Linked DNA regions of Homo sapiens. The protein of the gene in region 1 interacts with the protein of each later gene in a pairwise test. Each region holds a gene or a part of one and is shown on either strand. Other genes may lie near its edges.

Region 1 (3,746 bases):
GTATTTGTTCAATAAATGAACAATAGTCCTCTTAATTTGTTGTTAAAACAAACAAAACAAGCTTCAGAAAATGGAAATACGATAACCTTATAGTCAGGCCTCTCCTCTTGAAAGATCAAAAAAAATTCTGATTATGTTACAATAGATCATCAAGTTGGGCTTACAGCTATTTTAGTCTTCGTTTATAATTATAATATAAATGAACACAAAGAGCAGATGCATACCTTCCAAACTTTCTTGTTCATCCGAGGTGTAAGTGTCCATCTGACTTTGTTCCCGTAAGAAACGAATAACTGCATAAACCAGGTGCTTGATAGATGACATTTTAGAAGCTTAAACACTTTTCCTTGATAAGAAAAATGAAAACACTGAACTAAGTTATTTTAAAGAATCAGTCAGGAAAGTCATAAATTACAAAGATGATATGGGTTATAAAGTGTATTAAAGGTAAAAACAAAACACAAAACTGTATGACCTTTCATCTTTTCTCTTTGTAAAGAGTCAGGAGAGCACAAAGTATTGTGAAGGTAATTTATTACATATTTTCATTAATACCCAGTGGTATACGAGTATGTTAAATCTTGGAATAAGTAAAAATGTCTTCAAAACATGTACAGCATAAGCTTAGACTGTCACTGCATATCTCACCATACAGAAATCCCCTAAAGGCCTCAGTACTAAGTTAAGAGGCATTTCATACTGCTGACTAAAAGCTGATGTATACCAAGCATCTTCCTCTTTTTCATGGGATCTAAAAAAAGTATTAATAATGTACACTCTACCCACTTTTGTAGGTTGAGAGTTATTTGATGAGGAAACACATTCGCGAAAGGTTATTCAAGTGGTGAGTGTCGTTCTTAATAAAAATGGCATTTCTATTTAATCAGCAGACATGTCAGGAAATCGCTGCCCAAGTCGATGGATACTACAAGCCGACCGGCGCTCCCTGCAGAGGCTGTGCTCTCGTGGACAAGCTGGAAGCTCCCGGTCATGTTCATTCACATGGAATACTATCGCATCCAAACAGTGGCGCAGGGCCAGGCGGCATTCATGGCTGATTTCCACCAAATCGCATCATCCATCTGCTCCCCAGGTTCCCTAATTCAAAGCCAGGGTGTGGTACCCGCCGCTATAATGTTTATTATTTGTGTAGTTATTTTAAAGGCGATGTCAGCCTCTAGGCCACGGGGTCATAAGCACTAAATAAGGCCCCAGGGCAGAAGGTAAAAACAGAATGGGGGGAAAAGGGGTGAGAAGAGGGAAATAGGCTTCTCCCCCTTCCTCTCCCCAGAGCGCATCGAGCTCCCCCTCCCTTCCGTCCTCCCTCAGGTACCCGGCCTCGCCTCGGCCCTGCCCGGTGTGCAGCGGGTGCCGGTGCGGGCCCCGGTCCGGAGCGGCGGGAGGCGCACCCTTGCCAGACAGAAGCCCCTTACCAAGCAGGAGGACGCGAGACGACTGCTGCTGGCCCGCGGGGTTCCGTAGGCAGGCCCGCCCGACCCCTGGTCCTCGGGGCTGGAGCCCGGCTCGGGATCGCAGCACTGGTCGCGGCGGCGCAAACTTCCCCGGCCCCTAGGCCGTAGACCCCAGAACCCACCAGGCTGTGCTCTCTCTCAGGCGGCAGGGTCTGGCCAGCACCGCCCCTGGGGCGGGGCCGGACGCGAGGGCTGGGGCGGGGCCAGACACGCGAGCTGGGGCGGGGCACGGCGCGGGGCGGGGCTGGTAGGCGCCGGCGTGGAGCTGCCGCACGTGGGAGGGCGCTGGCCAGGCAGCCACTGTGGCCTCTGCGGCTAGGCCGGCTCGAGACTCCCGGGCGCCCAGGCGCTGCCGCCCGCCTCGCCGCCCCACGCCGAAGGACCACGCGCCCGCCGCCGCCAGCCTCTCAGCGCTCCCATGATCGCCCGGTGCCTTTTGGCTGTGCGAAGCCTCCGCAGGTACCTCCAGCGCGCGGGTTAACCTTGGCCGTGGGCAGGGCGGGGTCTTTCGCCGTGTGGTGCCTGGAGCCCGGACCCACCCCTTCCCGACCGCGCCTCTCCGACGCTCCCGGGACGCACCCTCCCCGCGGCTTGCAAGGTGGACCCCTGGGGGACACCTGGCGCGGCCACCTGGGGCCACCTTTCCCGCCTCCGCTCCCTCGGGAGGACGTCCATTCCTCTTTGTTTGGGACTGCCTCAGCCGCAGTCAGCGAGGCTGGTCACAGACGCGGCCCAAAATGAATGCAAATAGTTTGGATAAGAAAATCATTTCACGTTCAATCCCAATGCAGAACTACAGACCTGTCATTAAAAGTGCCGCAGCTGTGGACTCAGAACAATTGTGTTTGCTCCTCGCGCCCATTATTAGCATTCCAATCGTTTAACATCCACCCGAGATGAAACCTCTTTGGTGGTGTTGCTTGTTTCCGTCCATGCTCTCTGACTTCCTTTTTTATTTTCCTCCTCCCCATAAAACAAACATTCTGCCTCTTGCCGGTGCAAATTGACTTGGCCCAAAATGGAGAAAATGATCGCTTGGACACGGCTTTGGGCAGCCTGAGCTGCTGTTTTGGATTGCTTCCTAGCCCTCTAACCACACCCCACTGCAACAGACCAGTAGCAAGATGGTGAGGGAATTAAATTCTTTGCACGGATGCGCTGGTTTTCGGAAACAATGCCGCCACCATCCCCGTTTCCAAATCTGCCCAGAACTGTAAATCCAAATGAAGATTCAACAGAATAAAGAAAATGTGTGCTTCTTGCTAGCTATCAACAAAACTACTTTGTAACATGTCAGCATTTAAGCTTTCTACAGTTCCCTTTTGCACATTGCCACTCGTCTGTGTGGATGGAGCTTTGTGTTGCTCAGTCCGTAGAGTTAGGGAGCAGGCAGGCGACAGTGGTTAATTACAAAGAGTTAATGTGGTGATTGGTGACCATATTTCAGCCTGTCGTTTTTTGCTAGTCTCCAGGCTGCAATCGATATAGCTGTCAAATGAAGTTATACCAAGAAATGAAGACTTCACATAATGCAGGGGTGAGAGGAGGGAATAAATCTTCATATAAGAGCAATTCTCGGCCGGGCGCTGTGGCTCATGCCTGTAATCCCAGCACTTTGGGAGGCCGAGGCGGGTGGATCACGAGGTCAGGAGATCGAGACCATCCTGGCTAACACGGTGAAACCCCGTCTCTACTAAAAAATACAAAAAATTAGCCGGGCGTGGTGGCGGGCGCCTGTAGTCCCAGCTACTCGGGAGGCTGAGGCAGGAGAATGGCATGAACCCGGGAGGCGAAGCTTGCAGTGAGCCGAGATCGCACCACTGTACTCTAGCCTGGGCGACAGAGCAAGACTCCGTCTCAAAAAAAAAAAAAAAAAAAAAAGAACAATTCTCAAACTTTTTATTCTCAGGACCCCTTTACCTTTCAAAAATTACCGTGGACCTAAGAGCTTCTGTTTGTGTGGTATATCTGTCTATATTTACCATATTAGACATTAAAGCTGGAAAAAAATTAAAGTAGTTGTTAATTTACAAAACTAATAAATAGGCTAGGTGCATAAATAGTGATTTTAATGAAAAATAACTATTTTCCAAACCAACCCCCCCGCCCCCCAATCAGTGAGAAGATTAACATTGTGGGGTTTTTTCCCTTTTTTTTAAAATTGTGGTAAGATATAACAAAATTTACCATTTTGATAATTTTTAAGTGTACAATTGAGAGGTACAGCCAACACCACTGTCCATCTCCAGAACTTGTCATCATCCCAAACTGAAA
Region 2 (3,746 bases), on another chromosome or scaffold:
GCCCTGGGCGAGAAAAGAAGGGACAGTGAGAGGGAAGGCTTCTGAGGAGGGAGAGGTCCTGCCTGCCTCCCCACCTGCCACAGAGCCCCCTGGGGCCTTTTGAAAGGCAGACACTCCCAAATCCAAAGGAAGAGGTCTGGAGGAATGTTTTCACAGGCGCCAGCCTCCCCACCACCATGCCCTGGGTTGGGGTGCCAGGGAAGAAACCCTGTCCCCAGAGCAGGTGGGGAAGGGCCCTGGAGGCATGGAGCCCCCCAGCCTGCGCTCCCCGGCAGAGGGCTGAGGGGTGGAGGGCCGGGGGGTGAGCACGCATGCTGAGCCACTGTCTCCCCCCACCACTGTCTCCAGATGGGGGAGTCGGGGGTGGCAGGAGCCGTGGTGCCCTCAGGGGCAGCTGCTGGAGGGTCTGGCTGGCCAGGCGCCTGGTCAGCTGCCAGGGGCTGAAATTGGAGCCAGCTGGAGCTGGGAGGCCTGTGGGAATGAGGGGACTCAGGAAGCCCCTTCAGTGGGGGCTGGGAAAGGAGTGGCTTCCCTTACTCACTGTGTCCAGCACTCCCTGACCACCCCAGGACCACAAGAGCAATGAATACTGTGAGCACCGCTAAGCCCTTTATGTGCATTCTCTCTCGAATTGGCCAGAGAGAGGCTGCCCTCTTGTACCCAGTGACGTCCCAACCACAGCCGGCCATGCCCCAGCCCAGCCCAGTCCCTGGGGGCTGAAGCCACTGAGGCCACATCCTCCATGTCTAGGTCCCCCTAGGGTGTGAGGAGACGTGGCTCCAGCTAGGCAGTACCCATGTCGGGTGTGGGGGGCTGAGGCCTGGGCTTCCTTCCACTCTGGCTTGCTCCCACGTTGGAGAGACCACGGTGCCAGCAGTCCAGACAAGATTTTTAGGGGCAGAGTCCAGCAGCCTCTGGGGGCTGGGCCCCCAGGCCTGATCACCCCAGGCAGCTGCGGCAGGGTCCCAGGTGAAGCCCAGGAACAGAGCCCCCAGGGCTGCCACACGCCACTCTGCAAGGCCGTGTGTTGCGACCTGGCTCGGGCTGGGCCCTCCCAATCGAGAAGTAGCCGTGAGGGTGAGTTCCTGGGGGCAGGGCCTGCAGCCACCCCTGCTGGCCAGGAACTTGGGGTGGGGGGTTTGGACAAAACCCAAGACTAGCCAGGGGTCCTGTGCCCACCGCAGGGAGTCCCTATAGAAACCTGGCCCCCAGCCCCCCAGAGAGGGGCACTCCTGCCGCTCCCCCCTCTCTCTGCTCCACTCAAGACTGGCAACCCCCAGACCCCGGCAGCGGTTCCTCCAAAGAGAGGGCACGGCTACCTGGGTGGCCCCTGCCTGGGGTCCCTGACCCCAGCAGCACTCTGCAGTCCTGGGGGTGATTCCACCAGATGGAGTGTTTGGTTACACTCACTCCCCACAACCCCTGGGGTGCTGCCCCCAGCCCAGGGACCCACCCGGAGCCACTCCGCTCACAGGCCCCCAAAGGCGACCAGGGCCAGTGGTTCTGGGGGAGACCTGTGCGGCTGCAGTTGAAGACACTGTCCCGCAGCGTCGAGGGAGGCAGCGGGGACCCCCGCAGGTGCCGATGCCTTACCTGGGCCAACAGCCCGAGGACGAGGAGGAACGCGGCGTCCATCGGGGCCGAGGCGGGAGCCGGGCCGGAGTGCACCCGCGACCCGAAGAAGCGCGTCCAGGCTGAGTGACAGCGCAAGTGCGCGGGGCGGGCCAGGGCCAGAGACAGAGACAGCACGTGTGAGGGGGGCGGGGAGGGGGCGGGGCAAGGGCTGAGTGACAGCACGAAGGAGGCCTCTGACGGGCCGAGGGCCGGCCTGGGCAGGGCTAAGGCTGAGTGACAGCGTGTTGGCAGGCGGGTGGGGCGGAGCCTCTGGCGAGCTAGGGCGGGGCGCAGGCTGAGTGATAGCCCGTGTGCGAGTGGGGCAGGCGGGGCGGGGCCGGGGCCGAGGGCTGAGTGACAGCGCAGGTGCGCCGGCGGGGCGGTGACCGCACGAGGCTGGTGGGGCGGAGCCAGAGGAGGATGGGGCGGGCGGGGCGGGGCCGAGGGCTGAGTGACACCTTGTGAGAGTGCGGGGTGGGGCCGGGGTGGGGCCGGGGCGGGGCCGAGGGCTGAGTGATAGCTTTTGCGGGGTTCCGGCGGGCAGGGCCAGGGCTAGGTCGGAGATACCCCGGCTTGCTGCGTTGGGAGCAGAGCCAGAGGCCAGGCTGTGGGGAAGGCAGGGTGGGTGCGTCCGGGTCAGGGACCAGCTGGGATTCCTGGCTTCTTCATTTCCTGCTCCTTGGGCCCGGCTCGCCCCTGCTCCAGGGAATCTGCATTGTAGTCCCTGCCGGGGGACACCTCTTGAGCACTTCCTTGGGCCCCTCGCCTCTCTGGCTGCGTCTCCTGCGCCTCCCCGCATCCCACTGAACGCTAGGCCCGCCTTCCACGCACCTCCTCGCGACCTCATTTTGCCCAGCTCTTATTCAGTATGGAACTGCTCTGGTTCACACGCCTCTGATACCAGCGTGGCTCGTAGGACACCCCCAATTCCCCCAGTCCACGCACCTCCTCCAGCATCCCCTTGTTCCCCGAGGCCCCCTGCCTGGAGCACCTTCCTTCCTACAGAACTCCTTCTCATCATCCCTCAACACCCAAGGTCAACGCTGCCGCCTCCTGGAGCCTCCTTGCCACCTCGGCCAGAAGCCCTCCCTCCTGTTGACTGTGGCACCTGTTCTCCCCTTCGAGACCCCGCCCCCTGGGATGGTGTGGGTGTGGCTCAACACCTGCACAGGCCCAGCGCACGGTCAGGAAGGTCCTGGAGAGGGGGTGGAGGGGGCTGGAGGCAGGAGGATCCTTTCTTTTGAGCAGGCAGGGTGGGGAGTGGGGGTTGCCGACCAGCCCAGGGCCGGGCCGGGGAGCCCGTTCCTCTCTGTGATGGGAGCAGACCCGGTACCTCTGCTCTCCTGTCGACGGCGGGTGGCTGTGCAGGTGCAGGCAGCATCTGTGCACTTGGCCTGCTTGAAAGGAGGCCAGGCTGCCCGGGAGGCTCAGGCCAGGACTGTCCCTAGCGCTCACTGCTCCAAGATGAGAGAGGGCAGGGAGTCCATCTCCAGACTGGGAGGCCTCTGGGGCTGGGGTGTAGCCTGTTGGGGACCACCATCCTGCCTCTGTGGTCAGTGACCTCAAAATAGGGGTGGAGAAGCCCTCTGAGTGCTTTTGGTTTTCATCCTCACGGGACTAGTGCAGGGGTGAGGTAGAAGTGCTCGCCCTCCCCCCAGAAAGAGGTCTGGGGAGGCTGCGGTCTGCCAACCCCAGCTCCTCTCCGCTTCCACCCTGCACCCACCTCGCTTCAGCCACCTGCCTCCCACCCACCTCGGGGAGAAACGGAGGCCAAATCCCTCCTCCATGGGATGTGGGGGTCTCTAAGGGAAAGGCTAAGCTGGGCCAGGTCCTGGGTGAGCCCCAAATGCAGGGCGGGGCCAGGGAAGCAGCCGGCTTAACCACTGCGGGAGGGTGTGCTCCCTGGCTGGCGGGCTATCCCCCAGGGGCAGGTGCCCCCGCGAGGGACCCCGCTCCACATGCTCCCAGGGCAGCAGGAAGGTCAGGAGGCAGGAGCCTGGGTCCAGTCCCAGCTCGGAGCCTTGGGCTGGAGGTTCTCCCCCGTGCCTCAGTTTCTCCTTGTGTCAGAGGTAGGTGGCAGGGAAGGGCTGGGTACCCTGAGTCTGGAGGTCCTGTGCAGTGGGGGCAGGGGT

Evidence for each region. The genes of interacting proteins can lie anywhere in the genome.
Region 2: the proteins of SGTB (region 1) and CDH15 interact in binary tests that used the Homo sapiens proteins (3 or more experiments, as listed by UniProt).

The regions. Positions count from the first base shown.
Region 1 is NC_000005.10:65,720,484-65,724,229, forward strand, and holds the start of SGTB (small glutamine-rich tetratricopeptide repeat-containing protein beta), read right to left. Parts: upstream 1,627-3,746; 5' UTR 1,434-1,626; intron 347-1,433; 5' UTR 325-346; coding exon 225-324; intron 1-224. Other genes in the region: NLN (neurolysin, mitochondrial), read left to right, coding at 1,891-1,931. UniProt on the Homo sapiens protein: Co-chaperone that binds directly to HSC70 and HSP70 and regulates their ATPase activity.
Region 2 is NC_000016.10:89,169,721-89,173,466, reverse strand, and holds the start of CDH15 (cadherin-15 preproprotein), read right to left. Parts: upstream 1,720-3,746; 5' UTR 1,636-1,719; coding exon 1,594-1,635; intron 1-1,593. UniProt on the Homo sapiens protein: Cadherins are calcium-dependent cell adhesion proteins. They preferentially interact with themselves in a homophilic manner in connecting cells; cadherins may thus contribute to the sorting of heterogeneous cell types.